3 linked regions of the Homo sapiens genome follow. The protein of the gene in region 3 purifies or fractionates together with the protein of the main gene of each other region. This does not show direct contact. Each region holds a gene or a part of one and is shown on either strand. Other genes may lie near its edges.

Region 1 (3,653 bases), on a different chromosome or scaffold from region 3:
TGACTGTGGTTTATCAGCATGTCCTACTGTTGTGGACAGAACACTAATACTCCCAGACAGCAGAGAACTGAATAAACCATGTTATTGTGCAAGAGCGTGGTTTGCTCCAGTGCGTGCTGCCTTGGAGGTGGAAGTATGACGACGATGAACTTTTTGCAGTGGAGTCCATGTTAGATTGGAAGAGCCCCAGCGTCTGTCCATGTCCAGGCCTGGAATGCGGGTCCTCTGAGTGCCCTGGCTCCCCAGGGCCTGGCCCTGCCTTTAGACCCCTCACTCTCAAACACCTTCTCAGTACCTTGCTCCCAACTGTGGTCCGGAAATGCTTGCTGTTTGGCTTGATGACTTGCTTTGCAGATTTAACTGTAATCATTGAACCAAAAGGAGAAGGAGGAGTTGGATTTTCTTGAAAAAAGTTGGCACAGAGATGAAACTGGAAGGAACAGAGAGGATCTCAATGTCCAAAAGCAACTGCCCACAGTACTCACTCATACAAGCCACGTAAATGGTGACAACAACTCAGCTAAACTAGTGGGCGGTGAACAACCTCACCAACATCTACAGCCAAATCTCAATTCCACAAGACGATCGTCTTTCATAGGGATGGCCCGTGACTTCTTTCCCGAGAAGGGGAACAGAGAAGAAAAGTGTGTAAATGTCTGTATGTGGGTATCACTCTAAGTGTCAGAAAGTGGAAACATCTACTATTCTCACCTCCGTGCCTGGCTCACACTGTGTCTCCACCTGCAATCTCCTCCCTCCTACTCCACATTCTCATCCCTGCAGATCCAAACCCTACCCAGGAATCTCTTAAAATGTTTTCCAGCCCCACCCACTTCGCAATGAATGAATTAATCCCAACTTCTCTGAACCGTCTTCATCTTGTATTTGTACCTCATTTAAAGCACTTACTACCTTCTGCTTTGTATCAGTTATTTCTTTAAATGTCTTATCTTCTCTCAGAGTGAATTTCATATTTTGTTTTGTTTTGTTTTGTTTTGAGACAGGGTCTTGCTCTGCTGCCCAGAAGAAGAGTGCAGTGGCGCAATCATGGCTCACTGCAGCCTCTATCTCCCAGGGCCAAGCAGTCTTCCCCACCTCAGCCTCCCAAGTAGCTGGGACTACAGGCATGTCACCATTCCCTGCTAATGTTTTTTTATATTTTTAGAAGAGACAGGGTCTTGCTTTTTTGGCCAGGCTGGTCTCAAACTTCTGGCCTCAAGCAATCCACCCGCCTCTGCCTCCCAAAATGCGGGGATTACAGGCGTGAGCCACCACGTCTGGCTGGAATTGTGATTCTTCAATGGTTCTATTAGCTGTCCTTCCTGTCATCTGCATGTTTGATTTCTGATTTTGCATATAGTAGAGATTTACAGTAGTTATCTTTTTGAATCTGTGAGCTACAACTTACCACTGTCCAGAGAGTTCACACACACACACACACACACTCTCTCTCTCTCTCTCCTTACTCTTTCCTTATATACATCTAGATCCATGTCAATTATATAATAACTTTAGTTACCCCTAGGACTTTACAGACCTTGCTTGCTCTCAGGATTTCAACCAGCATGTCATAGACGGTGTCTCTGTTTTTCTCCAGGAAACCTTCACATTTATACTCTACCTATACAGAGAAAGCAATTAATTATTCCCAAAGAGGCCAAAGAATATAGCCTCTAAGCACAAGTTTCATCTCTTTTTTAAGAAAGATTAATAAAAAAGGCTACAGAGGCAATCTTACAAAAAGACGTCTGGCTTCTGTGCATCATGGCAGCAGCCCCATTATGTATAAGCTGGGAATGTGTCTTCTCTCCCACCACCTGGGTTTCTCACCTGCCTGCTGATCACTCTGCACTCACCTGTTGGCTCCCTCTGGCCACAGGGGTCCAGTTGCTCCCTGCGGTATGTGCAGTTCCTACAAGAACACCTGACTTAGGTCTCCCTTTGCCTTTGAAGCCACCAGGAGGAGGAAAAAGCTTAGTGGTGTTCATTGGGTTCAAACAGACATCGTTTCCTAAATCAACATTAATGTGGTAGAAAGGATAGAAAAACCGACCAGCTGACCACCAAGCCTTCAAGAGCCACCAAGCCCTCAGAATCAGGTTTAGAGTGGGTCAACCTTTGCACTGCTTGAATCTAGCTTAGAAAAACTCTCCATGCTGCCCTTTCTGATGAAGAAGGCTTCTCGAATGCCTCAAACCATGGCATATCCAGGGTGGCTGCTTCAACATTCAACCTCCCCCTAGTTTATGCCTCTGGATTGCATATCTTAATATGTGATAATTTATTTTTCATAAATTAAAAACGTATATTAAAATTAATTTTAAAAATTGACAATGAGGAAACAGGGGAGAGTGCTGGAATCCGTAAGCAGAGGGTTCCCTGGGCATGGCCTCTGCTTTGTCCCCCAGGTAAGGAAGTATCCTTGCCGGTAGGTAGGTTAAGATCCAGGAACACCGGCTGTTTGCAAACACTTCTTTGTGAATGAAGTACCTGGATTGTTGTACAAATTCTTCCAGAATGGTGGTGTGAGCCACTAGGACAGATAGACAAAGGTGGCAAATACAGAGCTTTCCTGGTCTGGGCGAGCATCTGTGGGGACAGTGTCACATGCAGCTGGTGCCTCTGTTGGGGACTCTGGGACCAAAGGAAGATGTGCTGAGCTGCTACATCTAAGCTCAGCTGACTTGCATTCAATACGACCTGATTTCCCTGGCCAATGAGATTGAAAACCTAATCTAACCCCATAGTGCATGTGGGTTCTTCCCACCAATCAATCCATAGTCCAGCCCAAACGCTGCCTAGTTCTTTTAAGGGAGACTTCTTGGAAGTGGCAGGTGAGAGAATTACATGTCCAGAAACTACATCCTATAAAGAGAGACCCTTGAAAGAAATCCCATATGTGCTTTTTATGGAGTCTGGTCTTTCCCCCTCCCTTTTCCTATGGGACCAGAACCCTGAAATTATGACAATAGCTAGGAAATATAATTTGACATATGATCATTTCATTTCATAGGCATCTTTTCAGGAGCCCATCTGAAAAAGTCTAAGCACTAAAAACTTATCTTTTTTTTTTCTTTTTCTTTTTCTTTTTTTTTTTTGAGACAGGGTCTCACTCTGTCAGCCAGGCTGGAGTGCAGTGGCGTGATCTTGGCTCAATGCAACCTCCGCCTCCCAGGTTCCAGCAATTTTCCTGCCTCAGCCACCTGAGTAGCTGGGATTACAGGTGCGTGCCACCACGCCTGGCTTATTTTTGTATTTTTTAGTAAAGATGGGGTTTCGCCATGTTGGCCAGGCTGGTCTCAAACTCCTGGTCTCAAGCGATCCACCCGCCTCAGCCTCCCAAAGTGCTGGGATTACAGGTGTGAGCCACTGCACCCGGCCAATCCTATATTTTAATATTTTACAGTACTCTGCTAGCACACAAAGGTGATCACAGCTTTCCAGGTTGCTGTCCCCTCCCTCCACCATCAGTCACTCGGGAATGACCAGCTCTGACTCACAGCACCGGCCTCTGCGATAAACATAGACAAGCACAAGCCATTCCTGTGAGCCCTGGCACTGGGCTAGGCCACCAAGGCAACACCCAACCAGGACATGGGAGGAGGTAGGAGCTCCCTTAAGGAAGGAAAACAAATAAGAATGTACATTTAGGG
Region 2 (3,653 bases), on a different chromosome or scaffold from region 3:
AGTAGTCACATCAGCCACTCAACTTTTAAGCAGAAGAACTGAATTCTGATTTCCAAAGCAAACACTCTTTCCAAAAGAGGCAGACAGACAGATAGGCAGACAGAGAGACAGAAGGGCAAAGTGATGCAGAGCATGGGCTCTGGAGCCAGACAGCTGGGGTTCAAACCTCGGCCCTGCCACTGCCACCTGTGTGACTTTAGGATGCCATGTGCCCTTCCAGTGTCTTCAATTGTACAAAAAGGGGGATGGTAATACTTGCCGTAGGAGGGCCGCTATATTAGACAAGCTACTCCAGTCAAAGCGCCAGCCCCATACCCCACACAGCAAGCCCTCCATGCACACCAGCTGCTGCTGCATTACCCTATGTCACCCCTGCAAGGGCAAAACACCAGCACCTTGGGCTAGTGTGTCAGTTTCCTATTGCTGCTGCAACAAGTTACCACCAAGTTATGACTCAAGATAGCATAAATCATTATCTTACAGCTCTGGAGGTCAGGAGTCTGAAGGGGTTGGCACGGCTGCATTCTTTCTGGACGCTCTAGGGGAGAGTCCATGTCTTCGTCTTCTCTGGCTTCTCAAGGCTGCCTGCATCCCTCCCACCTCTGATTCTGTCATCACTTCTTCTCTGAACTTGATCCTCCAGCCTCCCTCTTAGGAGGACCCCTGTTATATCAAGCTCACCTGGCTCACCCAGGATACTCTTCCCATCCTACAGTTCTTAATTTAATTGCATCTGCAAAGTCCCTTTTGCCATATAAGGTAACACACTCACAGATCCCAGGGCTGAGGGTATCTTTAGGGGTCACTGATCTGCCTGCCACAGTTAGTATCTGCTGTGGTCTGAGGACGTCTGTGCTCCCTCGGGTCTTCGGCATGTGCAGTTCCTCAAGGAAGCTGTGGGCTCTCTCAAAATGCTCCAGTACCCAAGCCCCCGACACCCAGGTAGGGAGCTGCAGACACTGACCTGCTCATCGATCTTCCGCTGCAGCTGGACCACCTTGTTCTCCATGCCCACGTTGAGACGTTTCAGATGCTCTGCTGAGCGGGCCTCAATCCTGAGGGCCTTCAGCTCCCGCCTGGCCTTGAGCATCCGGAAGGCACACTGGATGACAATGGCTGCATCCCGCAGCCGCTGGAAGTGCCTGCGTGCCATCCAGCCCCGCACGTGCTTCTGGATGGTGGTGGCCTTGTGCTCCATGAGGACCTGGCGGGAAACAAGGATACACATCTTGTGGGTTTGCACTGCAGGACAGGAGTGAAGGAAGCATACATCACTGCCTGTGGAGGGAAGAGGCCAGGGCAGCCTTGGTTCTAGGAGTTACACAGACAATGTGCCCCCTAAGATCTAAGGCTTTGGTGGTTGTTTTATAACACATTTCAGCGAGGTTCTGCGCCTACATATCCACAGGGAATCAGCTGTCAAACTCTTTTCAGCTTTGTTTTACTTTTTGTTTTATGGGTTAGGAAACCACAGTCTGAAAACCTCAAGGTTGTAGGGGCCTAATGATCATCCACTTGCTCTCTACCCATTTACCAGGTGGAGGTCCCCTCCTGGTGGCACTGAGCTGGAAGTGAGATACTTCAGTGAGTGTCCACAGCAGGCTAATGGCTTATAATTACAAACTTGGTGTGTAATTCACTGTTTTTTTTTTTCTACCAAGTTAAAAAACCACTCAGGATATGAAAGCATCATCAGTGTGCTCGCCCTAATACCTGGTAAAATAAATGTTTGTGGAATAAATGAGTAAACAAGCAAACAGGCTGAGCAATGAACAGTGCCACAGCCATGAGTGACAGAGCTGGGAGCCACATCAGTGCTCACTCTTTGCACATGCTGCCCCTGCTGAGAAACTCCCAAACATCACCTGCCCCTTCCATGGGAGCAGCACACCAACGCCACCCATCACCCAAGAACACTCACAGAACCTTCTCCCAATGGCCTGGGTTTCTCTACATACTACACCAGGGTGTGCTCCACCCTGACCACATTTTTATTATTATCAATTTCGTGCTTTACTTTTATTATTTAGAAAATCACACCTTCTGTGATCATAGAAGAGACAGATGTTCATTTAATGAAAAAGAAAACCATTTTAGACATTTCCTTCCAATTCGTGTTTCAAGTCAGCTCTGTGCTTCAGATGTGTTGGTGTTACCTGGTTGAACAGATGTGTCCTGATGTGGGGCTCCTGAACCCAAGGGTTTTGGCTTCACTGGAACAACACAAAGAGCAAGAACCTGGCAGGGAAGAGGTCGGGGCCTCCCTCCTGACCTCACCATGTTGGGCTTCAAGCTCCTGATCCGTTAAGTGGAGGAGTTAGACCTGATGATGCCCAATACCACCGCCTGCCCTCAAGTGTGAATGAGCCCTAGGTGGGTCACCTGGCCCTGCTGTTGGCTGGCCTGGGCCCTCAGGCAGGTGACCTGGCTTCTCTGAGCAACTCAGGTATCAGAAGGGGTGTGAAAACTGCCATGATTGGATGCTGGGCCCCTTCAAAACTCATGTTGAAATCTGATCCCCTATGTTGGAGATGGAGTCTAACAGGAGATGTTTGAGTCATAGAGGCAGATCCCTCATGAACAAATAAATGCCCTTCTTCAAGGGTGATTTCTCACTGTTAGTTCTCATTAGAGCTGCTTGTTAAAAGAGCCACTCTTGTGCTTCCTCTCTCACCATGCGACCTCTGCACACACCGGCTTCCACCTCCCACCATGAGTGGAAGCAGCCTGAGGCCCTCTCCAGAAGCAGATGTTCAATTGTGAACTTTCTGGCCACCAGAATTGTGAGCCAAATAAACCTCTTTTCTTCATAAATCACCCAGCCTCAGATATTGTTATAGCAACATTTAATGGACTAAGACAACAGTATGCACACCCTTCCTACCTTGTGGGACTTCAGAAAGGATTTGGTGAGAGCAGAGATGTGAAAGCATTTAGAAAAAAGTTGGGAGTGCTTGACAGAGGTTCACGTTGGCAGTAATTCATCTGTTGCCACTTTAGTTCTGAATCTGCAGCCCTGAGGCCCTCAGAGTGGCTACTCACCTGGCGGTAGGTTCTCCGCACAAACATGGCCCGGGTGAAGGCCTGGATAACAACGGCAGCTCTGCGGACCCTCTGGTAGGCCTGGCGGGCCCTCTGCATGCGGTAATGTTTCTGGAGCACCACAGCCGCTCTGATCCTCCGCAGGTGCTCAGCCAGCCTGGGGAGCAAGAGGAAACAGGCAGTGTCAGGGAGAGAGTATTGACCGCCCTGATGCAGAGAACCCTGAGACATCTGCAAATGCAAACCTCTCCCTCTGTGGCCCTACCTGGACACACCCAGGGGAAACCAACTCTCTTCACCCCTAACAAATGTAGCAATGCCTTAGGCATTTGACGTTGTGGCTAGAAAAGCAGTGTTAGTTCTTTCCTTATGGTCTCGAAAGGCTTCCCACAAGCTTCAAACTCAGTCAGAGTCTGACTTCCTCTATGATCCTTATCTGAGCACTCTTCTACCTCACTGTGCCTGGGCAGTCCTCAACTACTTCACCAGTAGCATTCTACATCATGTGTTCACATTGCTGCCTGTCCTCTGTACCTCCCCAGGCTTGGAGATCCCAGGGGCTGTGTCTCCATCATCCTGGACCCACTGTAGGCACTGGGTAAGTGTTTGCT
Region 3 (3,653 bases):
CCACTCCTGCATGAATTTGCTCTTAGCCAAGACAGCCTCTTCTCAAAGGAACTTGGCCCAACCCAAGGGATCATCATCTTTCAGTGAACAGAAAGGGACTGGGGAGATATCGTGGTGGCATCTCTCATTGTGAGAGCTTTATCAAAGGACTCGGACTTCATCACCCTTGCTTGTAGTTACCTAAGCCAGACAGAACAGTGTGGGGGTGGCTTCTTTGGTGCCCACACCAAACCAGTTATTTTAACAGAGAGAATTTAAGGAAGTACTATGTAGTAAAGAACTGGAAAGGCAAAATATACTAGGAGGTTCTACCTTCAAGAGGCAGCTACTACTCCTAGGGCAGGAGGAACAAAGGGAAGAGGTTGGAATTATTAAAACTTACAAACTTAGGGGCTCTGTAGATGAGGGACCCTGCAGAGCTGAATGTCGGTGAAAGTGATGCTCAGCTGGTGCCAGGGTCCAAGCTCAGGTTGGCTGGGATCCAGCCTCTAAAGCAGAGTTCCTGCTATGTGCTGGCCTCTCTGCGTGGGTATGATGAAGTGGTCCTGTGAGTATTGACAAAATAGCAAACTGGATTCAGCTGCTGCTCCCAGAAATAAATGGAGACTCTGACAGAAAGAGGAAGCTGAAAAGCATGGGCTTCTCCCTCCCTTCTCCTCCTCCAACCTTGCTGGCTCTCTCCAGTAACTCCTCTTGGCAGAACCTAACAGGATTCACTGGCAAAGAAGAGATGTGATCTGCTCAGTCCTAGCCCCAGCATCACAAAAAATAGTAAATAGAAGAGTAGGTTTGGAGACAAGCAACAGTAAATTAATGGCTGGAACATGAGGGATTCTGAGTAGACCGACCCATTGCTTTATCAGCTATGTAGGGCTGAGTAGTAAAGTAGAAAGAACTGTGGATTATAAAGCAAGGACTGTAATAAATATTAATGGTAACTCAATAGATATTGGTTAAATTAATTAATTTATCATGTAACATTAAGTCACATAATCTCTTGTAGCTTCAGTTTGCTCATTGCTAGGGATCTTCAGTCTTTAAAATTATTTTATTACACTTGACACTAGAGAACCTTGTCTGATGTACAGATAAGATTGTAAACTTTGAATCCCAACCTATTTAATCTCCCTTTGTCTTGCTTTTCTCATCTGTAAATGGGAATATAATAGATTCTTCCTTATAGGATTATTTAGAGATTTAAGTACCTTGCAAAGTACTTAAAGCAGTCCCTGGAACAGAGCACACAGTGAATAAATGTTTGTTATTATCATTCCTCTGATCAACATCATTATTGAGATTATCAAGGAGTACAGAAGTGAAGAACCTGTGATTGCTATCCTTACACTGCCCACAAGTTAGAAAAAAAAAGGGTACTGAAACAGTAATCATGATTCAGAATAGATTATAGCTCAGTGTTATAACAGAAGTTCAACACTGGCCTAGGAGCATAGAGGGGAAAAAATGTTCCCAGATGTCTGTGAACATGTCTGCAACAGTGAGTTTTTCATCCATCAAGTCATCATCATCCTTCACTTCAGCATAACTTTCTGGGAAACTCTGCATATTACCAGCACCAAAATGGAGACAAAAGCCCAGAGTGACTGATCTGGGGCTTCTCTGAATGGGAGGATCCCAGGGTCAATGGTCTAGGGCCCTCTCTGAAAATGAAAGCAAGGTAGAAGGTGGATATACAGATACAAGAAATCCAGAGAACACCTGTGAGATACCATACAAAATGAACTTCACCAAGGTATATAGTCACCAAACTGTCCAAGGTCAATGCCAAAGAAAAAAGTCTTAAAGGCAGCTAGAGAAAAAGGTCAGAACACATACAAATGGAACCCCATCAGGCTAACAGCAGACTTCTCAGCAGAAATATTGCAAGCCAGAAGAGATTGAGGGCCTATTTTCAGCATTCTTAAAGAAAGAAATTCCAACCAAGAGCTTCATATCCCACCAAACTAAGCTTTGTAAACAAAGGAGAAATAAAATCTTTTCCAGACAAGCAAGTGCTAAGGGAATTTATTACCATTAGACCATACTTACAAGAGATCCTTAAGGGACTCTAAACATGGAAACAAAAGAATGATACCTGCTACCACAAAAACACACTTGTAAATAGCCAACAGACCCTATAAAGCAAGCACACAATAGAAACTACAAAGTAACCAGCTAACAGCTTCACGAAAAGATCAAAACCTCACATATCAATATTAACCTTGAATGTAAATGATCTAAGTGCCCCACTTGAAAGACATAGAGTGGCAATTTGGATAAAAAATAAGAGCCACTCATCTGCTGTCTTCAAGAGACCCCTCTCATATGTAACAACACCCATAGGCTCAAAGTAAAGGGCTGAAGAAAGATCTATTACACAAATGGAACATAAAAAAGAGCAGGGGTCACTATTCTCATATCAGGTAAAACATACCACAAACCAACAATAGTGAAAAAAAAAAAAAGAACAAAGAAGGGCATTACATAATAGTAAAGGGGTGACTACAACAAGAAGACTTAACCATTCTAAATATATACACACCCAACACTGGAGCACCCAGGTTCACAAAACAAGTACTTCTAGACCTATGAAAAGACTTAGCAACAACACACAATAATAATGGGGGACTTCAACAACTCACTAACAACGTTAGACAGATCTTCGAGGCAGAAAACTAACAAAGATATTCTGGACTCAAATTCAACACTTGACAATTGGACATAACAGACATCTACTGAATACTCCACCCATTGACCATAGAATATACATTCCTTTCATCTGCACACAGAACATACTCCAAGATCAACCACATGCTCAGTCATAAAGCAAATCTCAATAAATTAAAAAAAATAGAAATTATATCAATCATACTCTTGGACCACAGTGGAACAAAAATAGAAATCAACACCAAGAAGATGTCTCAAAATCACACAATTACATGAAATTAAACAACTCACTCCTGAATTACTTTTGGGTAAACAACAAAATTACGGCAAAAGTAAAAACATTCTTTGAAATAAATGAAAACAAAGACACAACATACCAAAATCTCTAGGATGTAGCAAAAGCAATATTACAAGGAAAGTTTATAGCACGAAATGCCTACCTCAAAAAGTTAGAAAGATCTCAAATTGACAAAGTAACATCACACCTAGAGGAACTAGAAAAACAGGAACAAACTAACCTCAAAGCTAGTATAGTAAAAGAAATAACTAAAATCAGAGCAGAACTGAATGAAATTGAGACCCAAAAATTCATACAAAGAATCAATGAAACCAAAAGTTGGTTTTTTGAAAGGATAAAGAAGATCCATAAACCATTAGCTAGATTAACAACAACAACAACAAAAAAGAAAATCCAAATAAGCACAATCAGAAATGACAAAGAAGACATTACAATTGAGCTCACAGAAATACAGAAGATCCTTAAAGACTATTATGAACATCCCTATGCACACAAACTAGAAAATCTAGAGGAAATGGATAAATTCCTAGAAATACACTTTTCAATTGCCTTGAAAACTGTAACAAGACAAGGATGCCCACTCACCGCTCCTATTCAACATCATAGTGGAAGTCCAGAGCAATTGGGCAAGAGAAAGAAATAAAAGGCCTACAAGTAGGAAAAGAAGAAGTTAAATTCTCTCTTTACTGAT

Evidence for each region.
Region 1: the proteins of CLIC5 (region 3) and MYO5C purify together in Homo sapiens (affinity purification with mass spectrometry; one large-scale study listed by BioGRID and IntAct). This does not show direct contact.
Region 2: the proteins of CLIC5 (region 3) and MYO5B purify together in Homo sapiens (affinity purification with mass spectrometry; one large-scale study listed by BioGRID and IntAct). This does not show direct contact.

The regions. Positions count from the first base shown.
Region 1 is NC_000015.10:52,247,163-52,250,815, forward strand, and holds part of MYO5C (unconventional myosin-Vc), read right to left. Parts: intron 1,622-3,653; coding exon 1,538-1,621; intron 431-1,537; coding exon 296-430; intron 1-295. UniProt on the Homo sapiens protein: May be involved in transferrin trafficking. Likely to power actin-based membrane trafficking in many physiologically crucial tissues.
Region 2 is NC_000018.10:49,901,630-49,905,282, forward strand, and holds part of MYO5B (unconventional myosin-Vb), read right to left. Parts: intron 3,200-3,653; coding exon 3,043-3,199; intron 1,205-3,042; coding exon 965-1,204; intron 1-964. UniProt on the Homo sapiens protein: May be involved in vesicular trafficking via its association with the CART complex. The CART complex is necessary for efficient transferrin receptor recycling but not for EGFR degradation.
Region 3 is NC_000006.12:45,907,850-45,911,502, reverse strand, and holds part of CLIC5 (chloride intracellular channel protein 5), read left to right. Parts: intron 1-3,653. UniProt on the Homo sapiens protein: In the soluble state, catalyzes glutaredoxin-like thiol disulfide exchange reactions with reduced glutathione as electron donor. Can insert into membranes and form non-selective ion channels almost equally permeable to Na(+), K(+) and Cl(-).